Linked DNA regions of Homo sapiens. The protein of the gene in region 2 purifies or fractionates together with the protein of the main gene of each other region. This does not show direct contact. Each region holds a gene or a part of one and is shown on either strand. Other genes may lie near its edges.

What was found. Proteins that work in one complex are often made in the same cells at the same time.
Region 1: the proteins of KCNV2 (region 2) and MTHFR purify together in Homo sapiens (affinity purification with mass spectrometry; 2 studies listed by BioGRID and IntAct, with this or other methods). This does not show direct contact.

Annotation. Positions count from the first base shown.
Region 1 is NC_000001.11:11,795,639-11,802,964, reverse strand, and holds part of MTHFR (methylenetetrahydrofolate reductase (NADPH)), read left to right. Parts: coding exon 1-84; intron 85-1,548; exon of another isoform or gene 1,549-1,565; coding exon 1,566-1,804; intron 1,805-2,642; coding exon 2,643-2,753; intron 2,754-6,565; coding exon 6,566-6,759; intron 6,760-7,326. UniProt on the Homo sapiens protein: Catalyzes the conversion of 5,10-methylenetetrahydrofolate to 5-methyltetrahydrofolate, a cosubstrate for homocysteine remethylation to methionine. Represents a key regulatory connection between the folate and methionine cycles.
Region 2 is NC_000009.12:2,726,254-2,731,778, forward strand, and holds the end of KCNV2 (potassium voltage-gated channel subfamily V member 2), read left to right. Parts: intron 1-3,192; coding exon 3,193-3,474; 3' UTR 3,475-3,784; downstream 3,785-5,525.

The sequences.
Region 1 (7,326 bases), on a different chromosome or scaffold from region 2:
GCGATTGGAATCTGGTGACAAGTGGTTCTCCCTGGAATTCTTCCCTCCTCGAACTGCTGAGGGAGCTGTCAATCTCATCTCAAGGTAAACTCATGCAAGGTTAAGGTGGGAGGCGGGAGTGGTGGTGCCTGGGGAGCAAACTGTCAGCCCTGAGGCTGGGCTGCCCTTTAACCCGGCAGAAAAAAGCAGCCGGAGGGGGCAGGAAGGAGAAGGCAGAGTGGGTCATCTGATCTGCAACTTCTCTGTTGCCTGTAAAAGTCCCTCCACAGTGTCAAGGTATTTTAGACACACTCTTCAATGGGTTAAAAATGTTGATTCTCACACTGTATTCTTTGAGGGAACTTGGGGGCTGGATCACGAGTGCAGTTTAGGAAGTCACAAAGCAGTGAGATTGTTTTCAGCAAGTTAGAAATTTGGATTATGCTTCTTGAACTCTAGAAATGCCAACTGAATTACATTAGCACTTCATGAATTGCAGTTTTTTTTTTAAGTTTATGCCTTTTACTGTATGCACGTCTCACGTGTCACTCCCAAGTTTTTGAAGTTTAAATGCACAAGGATGTTTAAATACACCGTTGATAGCTTGTAACACAAGTACTCGTGCACATCCAGGCTTTTTTTTGAGTCTCGTTTCGGAACTTGGCCTTGGTCTGCATAACTGTAAGCTGCTGCACAGGGCTTGGGGGGTGGCATGAAAGAAAGTGAGTCTGCTGACCCTCTTTCTAACTGTTCCTACAGCGAGGCTGTGCTTGCCACAGTTAGGATTCCCCTAACTCTCAATCATGATGTCTTAACTCACCTGAGATAATAAACAGGCAAGCGCTGTGAAAAGTCTGAAGTGCTGCTCTCACACAAAATGATAGCGCTGTTGTTGTGTCTTACCTCTGTAATAGTGATTATAACGGCACCTCACATATACTGAGTATTCGGTTTGTACACCAGGCACTGTTCTAAGTTCTGTGGAACCAGCTGCCGTCATATTCTCCTAGTGTTATGGTTTTTTGTTGTTGTTGTTGCTTTTTTTTTTTTTTTTTTTTTTTTGAGACAGAGTCTCATTCTGTGGCCCAGGCTGGAGTGCAGTGGTGTGATCTTGGCTCATTGCAACCTCTGCCTCCTGGCTCAAGCAATTCTCCTGCCTCAGCCTCTCAAGTAGCTGGGATTACAGGTGCCCACCACCACACCCAGCTAATTTTTGTATTTTTAGTAGAGATGAGGTTTCACTATGTTGGCCAGGCGGTCTGGAACTCCTGACCTCAAGTGATCCACTCACTTCAGCCTCCTGAAGTGCTGGGATTACAGGCGTGAGCCACCACGCCCAGCATCCTAGTGTTATTATGAAGTGGGTACTACTATCTGCCGTGTCTTATAAATAAGGAAACAGAACTCACAGAGATTAAGTAATGTACCCAAGATCACACAGCTATAAGTAGCAAAGCCAGGATATGAACGCTGATTGGTCTGTCTCCAACCTTCATTGATGCTTCTCTAACTCCCGGGCCCCATGGGAAGGCAGTGACGGATGGTATTTCTCCTGGAACCTCTCTTCAGAAACAAACCCCCTACAGGTTTGACCGGATGGCAGCAGGTGGCCCCCTCTACATAGACGTGACCTGGCACCCAGCAGGTGACCCTGGCTCAGACAAGGAGACCTCCTCCATGATGATCGCCAGCACCGCCGTGAACTACTGTGGCCTGGAGACCATCCTGCACATGACCTGCTGCCGTCAGCGCCTGGAGGAGATCACGGGCCATCTGCACAAAGCTAAGCAGCTGGGCCTGAAGAACATCATGGCGCTGCGGGGAGGTGTGGAGCCAGCACTCCCCTACACTCTGGGTTCTGGCTTTCCCGGAGGCCACTTGGTAGCCTGAACTTGGTTCCTGAAATGGTCCTTTACTTCTTCCTGGGCCCCACGCTGAGGATCCGCAGGATCCCATCCCCGCCAGTAGTGTCAGTAGGCATTGTGGGTAGTGAGTCATCCTGGGCACCACACACAGGCAGCCACCTCTTCCACCTCTTGACCTCGACATAGGAGTTCCGTCAGGAATGCAGTCGCGGCCTGATAACCCTCTGCCTTGCCTACACCACTGCATCGATTGCTGGCTGCACCCAGCACTTGGCCCAATCACAGAGTAACAGAGTATCCAGGAGTGAGAATAGCCGGTCAGGCCTCTGGTGCCCGCTGTTGTCAGGCCACCTAAGAGTGGGAAGAGGGAGCCTGATGGGTGGGATCCTATGGCCTCGTGCTCCCTACCACAAGACCCCTTCACTTGAGATGAGTAGAAAATTCTCCCAGGAGGCAGGAGCCCCAAGGCCGTGGGATGGGAGAGGGTGGCAGGCATGCCCAGGTAGAAGTAGGGAAGGGCTCTCCAATCCTCCAGGCACGGTGAGAAGCAGCGGTGGTCTCCTATTCTCCACCGCCAGCACAGGGTCAGCATGCAGTGAATATTGAACTGGTGGGCTGCTTTTTTCCCTCCTGCTGTCTTACCAAGTGCTAGAAAGAGACGAACCAAACCTAAATAATATGAAGTTTCTGCCTTCCAGGGACTCGCAGTCCTGGGTGTCGGGGCTAGGTAGAGGGAACAGAAAGGGTCTCTGGAGGTTGGGTGAGACCCAGTGACTATGACCTCCACCAACCCTGCAGACCCAATAGGTGACCAGTGGGAAGAGGAGGAGGGAGGCTTCAACTACGCAGTGGACCTGGTGAAGCACATCCGAAGTGAGTTTGGTGACTACTTTGACATCTGTGTGGCAGGTGAGTGGCTGGATCATCCTGGTGGCGGGGATGGAGCTAGGGAGGCTGAGATGCCCAGAGAGCCTGTCGGTGTTCGGTTCAGGACACAGTGATCAGGGGCACTCATGGGTCCATGCTGGATGAAGGACATGCAGAGGTGAACTGCACCATGTCCTTGCTCCTTTTGTATCACCCACTCCCCTCCTGGGCCTGCCACCATCGACCCCTAGCTTTTTGTTCCTCTGCCTGGCTGTGCCCTTAGCCTGCTTGGCCTTATTCTTTTCTTTAAAACGAAAGAGGGGTCTGGGCGCGGTGGCTCACACCTGTAACCCCAACACTTTGGGAGGCCGAGGCAGGCAGATCACCTGAGGTCAGGAGTTTGAGACCTGCCTGGCCAACATAGCGAAACCCCGTCTCTACTAAAAATACAAAAATTAGCCAGGTGTGGTGGTGCACGGCTGTAGTCCCAGCTACTCAGGAGGCTGAGCCAGGAGAATCTCTTGGACCCAAGAGGCGGAGGTTGCAGTGAGCCGAGATGGTGCCGCTGCAGTCCAGCCTCAGTGGCAGAGCAAGACTCCATCTCAAAAAAAAAAAAAAAACAACACCCCACAAAAGAGGGATATTTACTAACAGGATTCCAGAGGGCAGGGAACCCAAGATCAGGAGATGGCCTCAGACCTCACAAGGCACTGGAAGAGGTCAAAAAGCAAGGCCCTCCCTCATTCCCTCTGGGGCCACAGGGTCCCCCATCTCCGCTTCCCACTGCACATCTGTGCTTCATCTGGGAGACCTGATACCCATGCTTTTCCACACACCTGGCCTGCTCCTGAGTGTGCAGAGTGTCAGTTCCAGCCAGTTCCCCAGGCTAATGGACAGGCCTCCGTTCCAAATTCCCAGGAAAGAGAATCACCATTGGCCACAGCCACAAGACCAGGTTCCCCCAACAGAAATGGGTGGGTTGGACTTCTCTCCCACCCTTGAAGCTGAAGGCTGGCATTGAGCCCTCAGCGTCTCAGACAGCGCTCAGGTATGGCAAGACAGTGTGCACCAGGGACAGGAAGTCCCGGGATTGGCACATTTTCTGGGATGACAGTTTTTTTGCCAATATTCTGGGAGAAATCCTACCATTTTTATATTAAACATGGCTATGTTATGGAGTAGCATCTAAAGTGATATGAACTAAAAAAAAAAGGCCAGGTGCGGTGGCTGAAGCCTATAATCCCAGCACTTTGGGAGGCCAAGGCGGGTGGATCATGAGATCAGGAGTTTGAGACCATCCTGTCCAACATAGTGAAACCCCGTCTCTACTAAAAATACAAAAATTAGCCGGGCATGGTGGCGCGTGCCTGTAGTCCCAGCTACTTGGTAGGCTGAGGCAGGAGAATCGCTTGAACCCAGGAGGCGGAGCTTGCAGTGAGCCGAGATCGCACCAATGCACTGTAGCCTGGGCAACAGAGCCAGACTCCGTCTCAAAAAAAACAAAACAAAAAACCCAAAAAACAAACCACGTGGCTTCAAGAAAATTACATGTTGTGAGTAACTTTGGCCTTGTCCCTAACCCCCGATGGACATGTCCATTCTGTCAACAGGGGTGTTTAGGTGCTAAGTCTGGGAAGCACTGATTAGGAGTCAGAGAACAGACATTTCCAACTGTTAAATTGTCATCGCTTGTATCAGCCATTATATAGTCAGTTACTGGGGGAATATGCACCCGTGATGGGCGTTAGGTGATAATGATTGGAAACTAGTGAAGCTGTGAGCTCACAGTTGCTGAATGGTTTCTTACTTTGCTTATCAAGTGGGTAATGAAGATGAGTGGATTAGAAAACACCAACCTGTTGGGCATGGTAGCTCATGCCTGTAATCCCAGAGCTTTGGGAGACTGAGGCAGGAGATCAAGACCAGCCTGGGCAACACAGTGAGACCGTGTCTCTACAAAAAATAAAAACATTTTAAAAAAGAAAGCCCTCAGCTGTTCATGATAGAAAAATAGAGTAAATAGCAAAATCTATACGTAATCAAATGCTAGATTTGTTCGGTGATATTTAGGTATTGTAGCTATACTTTTCAGCTATTAAAAAGCCTTGTTGTTTCTGAAATTCCTACTGGGAAAATAGCTTTGTTATTGCAAGTGTGAAGCCCCATTGCTTTATCCCCCACTCCCTTACCCCTTGAAACAATAGTTTTTATATTCATTTTTTGATGACTCTGGGTTTCTTAAGAACGGAACTGCCTTATCAGAGCAAAGCAGCTTGGCCTTCCGCCTGGCTCAGAGTCCTGCCCTGGGCTTGGGCTGATGAAACCAGCACTCCATGTAGTTTCATGAAGGCCTATGGTCATCCTGCTTGCCTGACCGAGCAAGGCGGCTAGTAAGTTTAGTCATTGAGGAAAGGGGTCAGAGAGTTCACAGAGCCAGTAAGGAGCCTATGGGACATCTGATCCCACCTCCTAAGCAATTCTGGAATCTTGTCTTCAGCATCCACTGCCCCTGTGTTTTCAGACTCCAGGAGCTCATTGTTTTGTGAGTGGCTTATAGTACTCTAGCCAGCTCTCTGAACCGGATGCTGGTTCTGCCATTAGAAACAACACAGAATATGACTAATAAAGAACTTCACTAGGGGGCTGGGTACAGTGGCTCATGCCTGTAATCTCAGCACTTTGGGAGGCCAAGGTGGGAGGATTGCTTGAGCCCAGAAGTTCCAGACAAACCTGGACAAGATAGCAAGACCCCATCTCTAAAAAATAAATAATTAATTAAAAAAATTTTTTTTAATTAGCCAGATGTGGTGGCTTGCATCTGTAGTCCAAGCTACTCAGGAGACTGAAGTGGGAGATCACTTGTGCCCGGGAGTTCAAGGCTACAGTGAGCCATGATTGTATCACTGCACTCTAGCCTGGGTGACAGAGCAAGACCCTGTCTCTGAAACAAAACAAAACAAACTCACCTATGGTGGATCCTTTTTCCCCAGGACAGACCTTTGGACATTTGAAAGGAGTTTCTGTATTCTTTTCATTCTTTTTTTTTTTTTTTTTTTTGAGACGGAGTTTCGCTCTCGTTGCCCAGGCTAGAGTGCAATGGTACGATCTCGGCTCACTGCAACCTCTGTCTCGTGGGTTCAAGCAATTTTCCTGACTCAGCCTCCTGAGTAGCTATTACAGGCATACACCACCACACCTGGCTAATTTTTGTATTTTTGGTAGAGACGGGGTTTTACCATGTTGGCCAGGCTGGTCTCGAACTCCTGACCTCAGGTCATCCTCCTGCCTTGGCCTCCCAAAGTGCTGGGATTACAGACATGAGCCACCGCACCCTGCCATCCATTATTTTCTTTGAAGAAAACATCACTTTCTTCAGTTCTTCCTTGTGTAACTTGGTTTTTAGCTTTTCACTATCTTGGACCCCTGAGTAATTTCAGTGTTACATTAAAAACAATGTTTAATCCGGTGCCTAGAGAAAAGTCAAGCTTACTACCCCAGATGCTGCCCAGCCAGTGCTAACTGTAGCATTTTCTCTTTTCTATGGCCACCAAGTGCAGGCCTGATTTGCTTGGCTGCTCAAGGCAGGACAGTGTGGGAGTTTGGAGCAATCCACCCCCACTCTTGGAACTGGGCTCTGAGCCACCTCCCCTGAGAGTCATCTCTGGGGTCAGAAGCATATCAGTCATGAGCCCAGCCACTCACTGTTTTAGTTCAGGCTGTGCTGTGCTGTTGGAAGGTGCAAGATCAGAGCCCCCAAAGCAGAGGACTCTCTCTGCCCAGTCCCTGTGGTCTCTTCATCCCTCGCCTTGAACAGGTGGAGGCCAGCCTCTCCTGACTGTCATCCCTATTGGCAGGTTACCCCAAAGGCCACCCCGAAGCAGGGAGCTTTGAGGCTGACCTGAAGCACTTGAAGGAGAAGGTGTCTGCGGGAGCCGATTTCATCATCACGCAGCTTTTCTTTGAGGCTGACACATTCTTCCGCTTTGTGAAGGCATGCACCGACATGGGCATCACTTGCCCCATCGTCCCCGGGATCTTTCCCATCCAGGTGAGGGGCCCAGGAGAGCCCATAAGCTCCCTCCACCCCACTCTCACCGCACCGTCCTCGCACAGGCTGGGGGCTCTGGGTGGAGTGCTGAGTTCGCTGAGTTCTTCCCAGATCTCCTCTCAGGTCCAGAACTTGCACAGCGTTGCTTGGCCACCCCATTTTGGTTACCTCTAATTTTCCCCCCAAAACCCAGCAACAGTGTCTGTTGAGGGGTTTGTTGTACTTTGGCCAACAAGCATCACCAAAAGGGATTCTAATTCTCATTACAAATCCTGCTTAAATCAGTGTTTCCCAAAGGTGGCTGTCATCAGAACCACTTGATAAGCTTTTTCAAAAAGTGGATCTCCAGGTCCCACCCCTGGAGGTTCTCACTCAGTAAATCTGAGGGAGGTCCTCGGAATGTGTGTTTTACTTCTTGAGCTTGGCAGGTGATTCGGATGATCAGTGCAGCATGGGAACAGCTGGGTTAGATGACACCATGTTACCAACAGACACATCTAGGGCTAAAAGGCTGGCTCAACCCAAGGCTGGAATGCTTAGGGCAGCTGCTCTACTCTGTAAAAAGTG
Region 2 (5,525 bases):
ACAGATCACTTGTTGAGTCAAATTATTCACGAAATAGACAACATATAAATTAACTGTACATTTTCAACAAATTATTGGGGACCAGTCACACATAGCCTCCTAGCAGAAGAGATCTGTTCTCTAAAAATAGAGATTGAAGATATACAAAAATATTTGGATCATATTATACACATCAGATATTTATTCTTCTTTAAGCCAATTCTCTTTGCTTTTGACTTTTCACTCAAAGTTCAGCCAAAAAAAAAAGAAGTTTGGCTTAAGGGTGAAGCAAAGCCAGTGTGCAGAATGATCAAAAGTTGAAAATAAGCAGTTTATCTTAATTATTTTCTTCCTCAGTGTCTTCCTACTCTCTCCCATCCCCGCCATCCTGAACCCTTAAGTGACTTGTTTCCTCCAAGGCCTCTGCATTGGACTTCCGTGGATGTCTCATGTTCTAAACCAGGGGTCCCCAATCCCGGGCTGTGGAGTGGTACTTGTCTGTGGCCTGTTAGGAACCCGGCCACACAGCAGGAGATGAGTGGAGGGCCATCAATCATTACCGCCTAAGTTCTGCCTCCTGTCAGATCAACCACAGCGTTAGATTCTCATAGGAGTGGGAACCCTATTGTTAACTGCGCATGGGAGGGATCTAGGTTGCTTGCTCCTTATGAGAATCTAACTAATACCTGACAACCTGAGATGGAGCAGTTTCATCCCGAAACCATCCCCTCCCCCAACCCCGTCCATGGGAAAAATGGTCGTCCACAAAACCGGTCCCTGGTGCCAAAGAGGTTGGGGACCGCTGTTCTAAACTACCCCTTCCTGTCACTCACTCCTAAATCCAAACTCCCTTTAGGCCTCCTCCAGGGAAGGTTGACTAAACTTTCATCCAGAGGTGTGAGTCATGGTGTTAGTGACAAATGAAAGCTATTGTTCAGCTCACACAACTGGAGAGAGATCAGCCTGGGGTTCTTTGACTTTTGGTGTGGTCAATGACAAGAAACACACACCCGGACACAGGAAGGGGAACATCACACACCAGGGCCTGTTGTGGGGTGGGGGAGGGGGGAGGGGTAGCATTTGGAGATATACCTAACGTTAAATGACAAGTTACTGGGTGCAGCACACCAACATGGCACATGTATACATATGTAACTAACCTGCACGTTGTGCACATGTACCCTAGAACTTAAATAAAAAAAAGACACACCCACTCATGCAACCAAGAGGACTTTGAGATTAACCCACAATCTCACTTTATCACTGCCTCACATCACCCCTTGGTCCAGAAGTTGGGAGAAGGATATTCTCTACTGGAGCCAGAGGGCAGAGTCAGGGAGGAGCTTGTTTCCACAGCCTGAGGGTCTGATAAGCATAACGTATATAGAGTTGCTGGTGTAGAATGCACTCAATAAATGTTGGTCTTTGCCTCTTCTCAGTGGAGGCCAGCTTCAGCATGGGGGACCCTGGGATTGCATACATGATATATATATAATAATATTATTGCTTACACACCCTGTGCCAGGCACTCCTTCAATTCCTATAACAACTCTGTGAGGTAGATACCACACATTTCAAAAGTAGAAACTGAGGCCAAGAGAATTTAGGTGATCTGCCCAACTTATTCAGCTGGGAAGTGGATTCAGACCCACAAGTCTACTGTAGTCCGTTTCCTTCAGCTTATCTACACCACATTACCTCTCTTGGATGCCTGCTTGTATTTTGACTCTGCAGAAAAAGGCTGCATGACCTCTCACAAGAGACAGGGCAGTGAGTGACAGGAGGTGCATCATCAGCCTCAAAAAGGAGGCATACCCTTCCTTTTTTCGTGGGCTGGATGGAGCTGTGGTTCTCATCAGTGCCCTCAGTTTTGTGCAGCTGGCTCACTTCTCCATTTCATTCTAATCAGTCAACTGCACTATTCCAGGTTCAAACTAACCCTTACATCATCAAAACAAAAATATTTACACTGCTAAGCTAACGGCCACCTCAGCACGGATCAACAAGATGACCATATGCTTTACTGCCGTCTGCTGGAAAATTATGGCAACAACTACCCAAATACACAAAGCAAAGAGTGCCCCCCTGGAGTAGTGCAACGCAAAAATGTTTACAACTGTGACCAACAGCTCTGCTTAAAAGGCTTCTAGTAATTTAGCCAATACTCTGGGGATCAGAGGGAGTACATGAGGCATAAAAAACAGTCCCCAAGGAATTTTCACAGGGTTTTCTCTGGTAACTGATAACTAGTCCCATGGTATCTGCATTTTAAAACAGAAGCTTGTTAACCTAAATAAGTCTCCAATTAGTGGGATTTAAATCAGTATGACAAGAGTAATGGGAAGTATTTCATGCAGGGGTGAACATATTTTTGGTGAGTGATGTCTTACAAAAGTCCCTTTACAAAATAATGAGAGTGTTTCTCCAGACATCTGCAATTAAAGCACCTTCACATAAAGTCTCTCATTTGAACTACGTAACAACTTTGAAAAGTGTTATAACTGTCTTCATTTTAAAGATGAGAGGAAGACAATGGAGGAGTTTCATGCCTTTTGTATGCCTGGTACTGTGTTCAGTGCTTTATATTCATTTTCTTATTTAGCCTTCACAAGAATCCTAAGAGTTAGATGGTTTTCTCCTGTTTTAAATAAAAAAAAAAAAAAAGAAAAAAAGAAAAAGAGAGAGAGAGAGTCTGAAGGTTTTGCCCCAGGTCACTCAACTGGAAAGGTTCAGAGTCAGGACTTGAACCCAGGTCTGACTGTTCTAAGCCCAAGATTTTTCCAATACATACAGTGTACAGGCAAACCCAGGGACCTGCTTTCCTGAATCTGGTGCCAGCTGAGTTAGGGAGGCAAAGATCATTTACTGAGCACGTTCTACATCAGGTACTTAACATACTATTTTAAATGCTCTTTACAGCAACCATTTCAAGTAGGTATTACCTCCTCCTCCCATATCTTACATTCAAACATGCATGAGTCGTAGTCAGGATTTCAGCCAAAGTCTTTCAGCTCCATCCATAGCTTCTGTTCTTTTCATGACACAGGTCCTAGAGGGAGTCTTCCTGGTACCTCCTAAAGCAGGCTCCGTGGGAAGCCATTACACTTCCCATGTGTACCCACAGGGAGGACGCTTCCCTGCTTGCTCCTCTCCCTTTCTTCTCCTCCCCGATCTTAGTGCTAACAATTCCATCCTGCTTTCCTTCCTCTACAGGTGAGCATCTCCACCGTGGGCTACGGAGACATGTACCCAGAGACCCACCTGGGCAGGTTTTTTGCCTTCCTCTGCATTGCTTTTGGGATCATTCTCAACGGGATGCCCATTTCCATCCTCTACAACAAGTTTTCTGATTACTACAGCAAGCTGAAGGCTTATGAGTATACCACCATACGCAGGGAGAGGGGAGAGGTGAACTTCATGCAGAGAGCCAGAAAGAAGATAGCTGAGTGTTTGCTTGGAAGCAACCCACAGCTCACCCCAAGACAAGAGAATTAGTATTTTATAGGACATGTGGCTGGTAGATTCCATGAACTTCAAGGCTTCATTGCTCTTTTTTTAATCATTATGATTGGCAGCAAAAGGAAATGTGAAGCAGACATACACAAAGGCCATTTCGTTCACAAAGTACTGCCTCTAGAAATACTCATTTTGGCCCAAACTCAGAATGTCTCATAGTTGCTCTGTGTTGTGTGAAACATCTGACCTTCTCAATGACGTTGATATTGAAAACCTGAGGGGAGCAACAGCTTAGATTTTTCTTGTAGCTTCTCGTGGCATCTAGCTCAATAAATATTTTTGGACTTGAGTTGACTTGAGAAAATTTTTTTTACTTTAAATTTTTCTAAAATTCTTAACTTTCCAGAGGGAGGGAGGGTTACAGCAGAAATTATACAAGCTTTGGAGTTAGACCAACCTTAGTCAGAATCCCAGAGCTACCAGCTGTATGCTTTTAGGCAAGCGACTCTAACCCTTTAAGCCTCAGTTTCTTCAACTGTGAAATGTAGGCAATACTTACCCTGCCAGGCTGAGCAATATAGTGAGACCCTGCCTCTACAAAAACTTATTAAGAATTATCTGGGTGTGCTGGCCCACACCTGTAGTCCCAGCTACTTGGAAGACTGAGGTGAGATCACTTGAGCCCAGGAGTTTGAGGTTAGAGTAAGCTATAACCACATTACTGCACTCCAATCTAGATGGCAGAGTAAGACCCTGCCTCAAATAAATAAATAAATAAATAAATAAATAAAACCACCTGCCTTGTAAAATGAGTCTGGGGATAACAGATATGTGTAAACGCTCAATAAATGATAGGTATTAAAATTGTTTAAGTGGATGTTATCTAGTGAAATCTCTAGACCAGTGGTTCTCAAAGGCAAATTCATTCCTCAGAGGCCAGCTAATGCCTAGAGATGGTTTTGATTGCCAATACCGTGAGGGGCAATAAGGGAGACTTCTGGCATCTAGGAGCTAGGGGCCGAGGATGTTGCTAAACATCCTACAAGGCAAAGGACAGCCCCCATAACAAAGAATTATCTGACCCAAAATGTCAATAGTGCCAAACTGGAGAAACTCTTGTCTAGATTTAATATGGGAGCCCCCAGATTGGACTTGTGAAACATGCCTAAATGTACTAATCCTCCCCCATTAGAAGGAGCCCCCATACTGTCCTTACTGACTCAGGCCTCCTTTTTCTCTTTTCCACAAAAGGAAGAAAAAAAAATAGCCCACCTCCTGAACAATTGCTGTGGGCAAAAGTAATTAAATCAGTGTGGCCCTCCACTCTCACTGTTGGTGGATTAGAGAACCAGTGCCCACAGGAAATGGGTCCTTTCTCTCCCTGTAACCTTTTCCTCTTCATTTCTTTGTCCTTCCTTGGGACTATTGGAAATGGAAGTGTTGAGAATTAAAGACTCCTTTGAACTGAGCACACAAAGATTGCCCTGTAACTGGAGCTTGCCAATGCAGACCCTCAAATTTGTCTCGGGGCATGGCTGGACCTATACTTGTGTCATAAGAATAAACTGCTGATTCAAGCAACAGAGAGAGAAAAAAATAAGAATAGTTGCCTACAATGAGAGGCAATTTGGACTGTATATGTAGCATATAACTTTAATATTTAATACATCCCTAAATAAGGTATTGGATTACTTTTTAATTTAGGAAGAAATGGAAGCTTGGAGAAGTTAAGTAATTCCACTACGTTCACACAGCCAGTAAACAGTGGGACTGGGGTTCAAGCCCAGGTCTGTCTGATCCCCAGGGCTCTTGATGGAGGGCTAAACTTGTATCATCAGCATCACCTGGACGGCTTGTTAAAGCCAAGCATGCTGGGCCCTGTCCCTGGGGTATCAATCAGTAGGCTTGGGAAGGAGCTCAAGGATTTGCATTTCTGACAAGTTCCAGGTGATGCTGATGGCGCTTGTGTGAGGGAACACATGTTGAGAGCCAGGGGTCTAAATCACTTTGCTCTGCCCTCCCATAAGGAGCTAGGATTATGAAAGGAGGCTATAACTGGAAAACTCTATTTAGATCCCACTCCCCCTTAC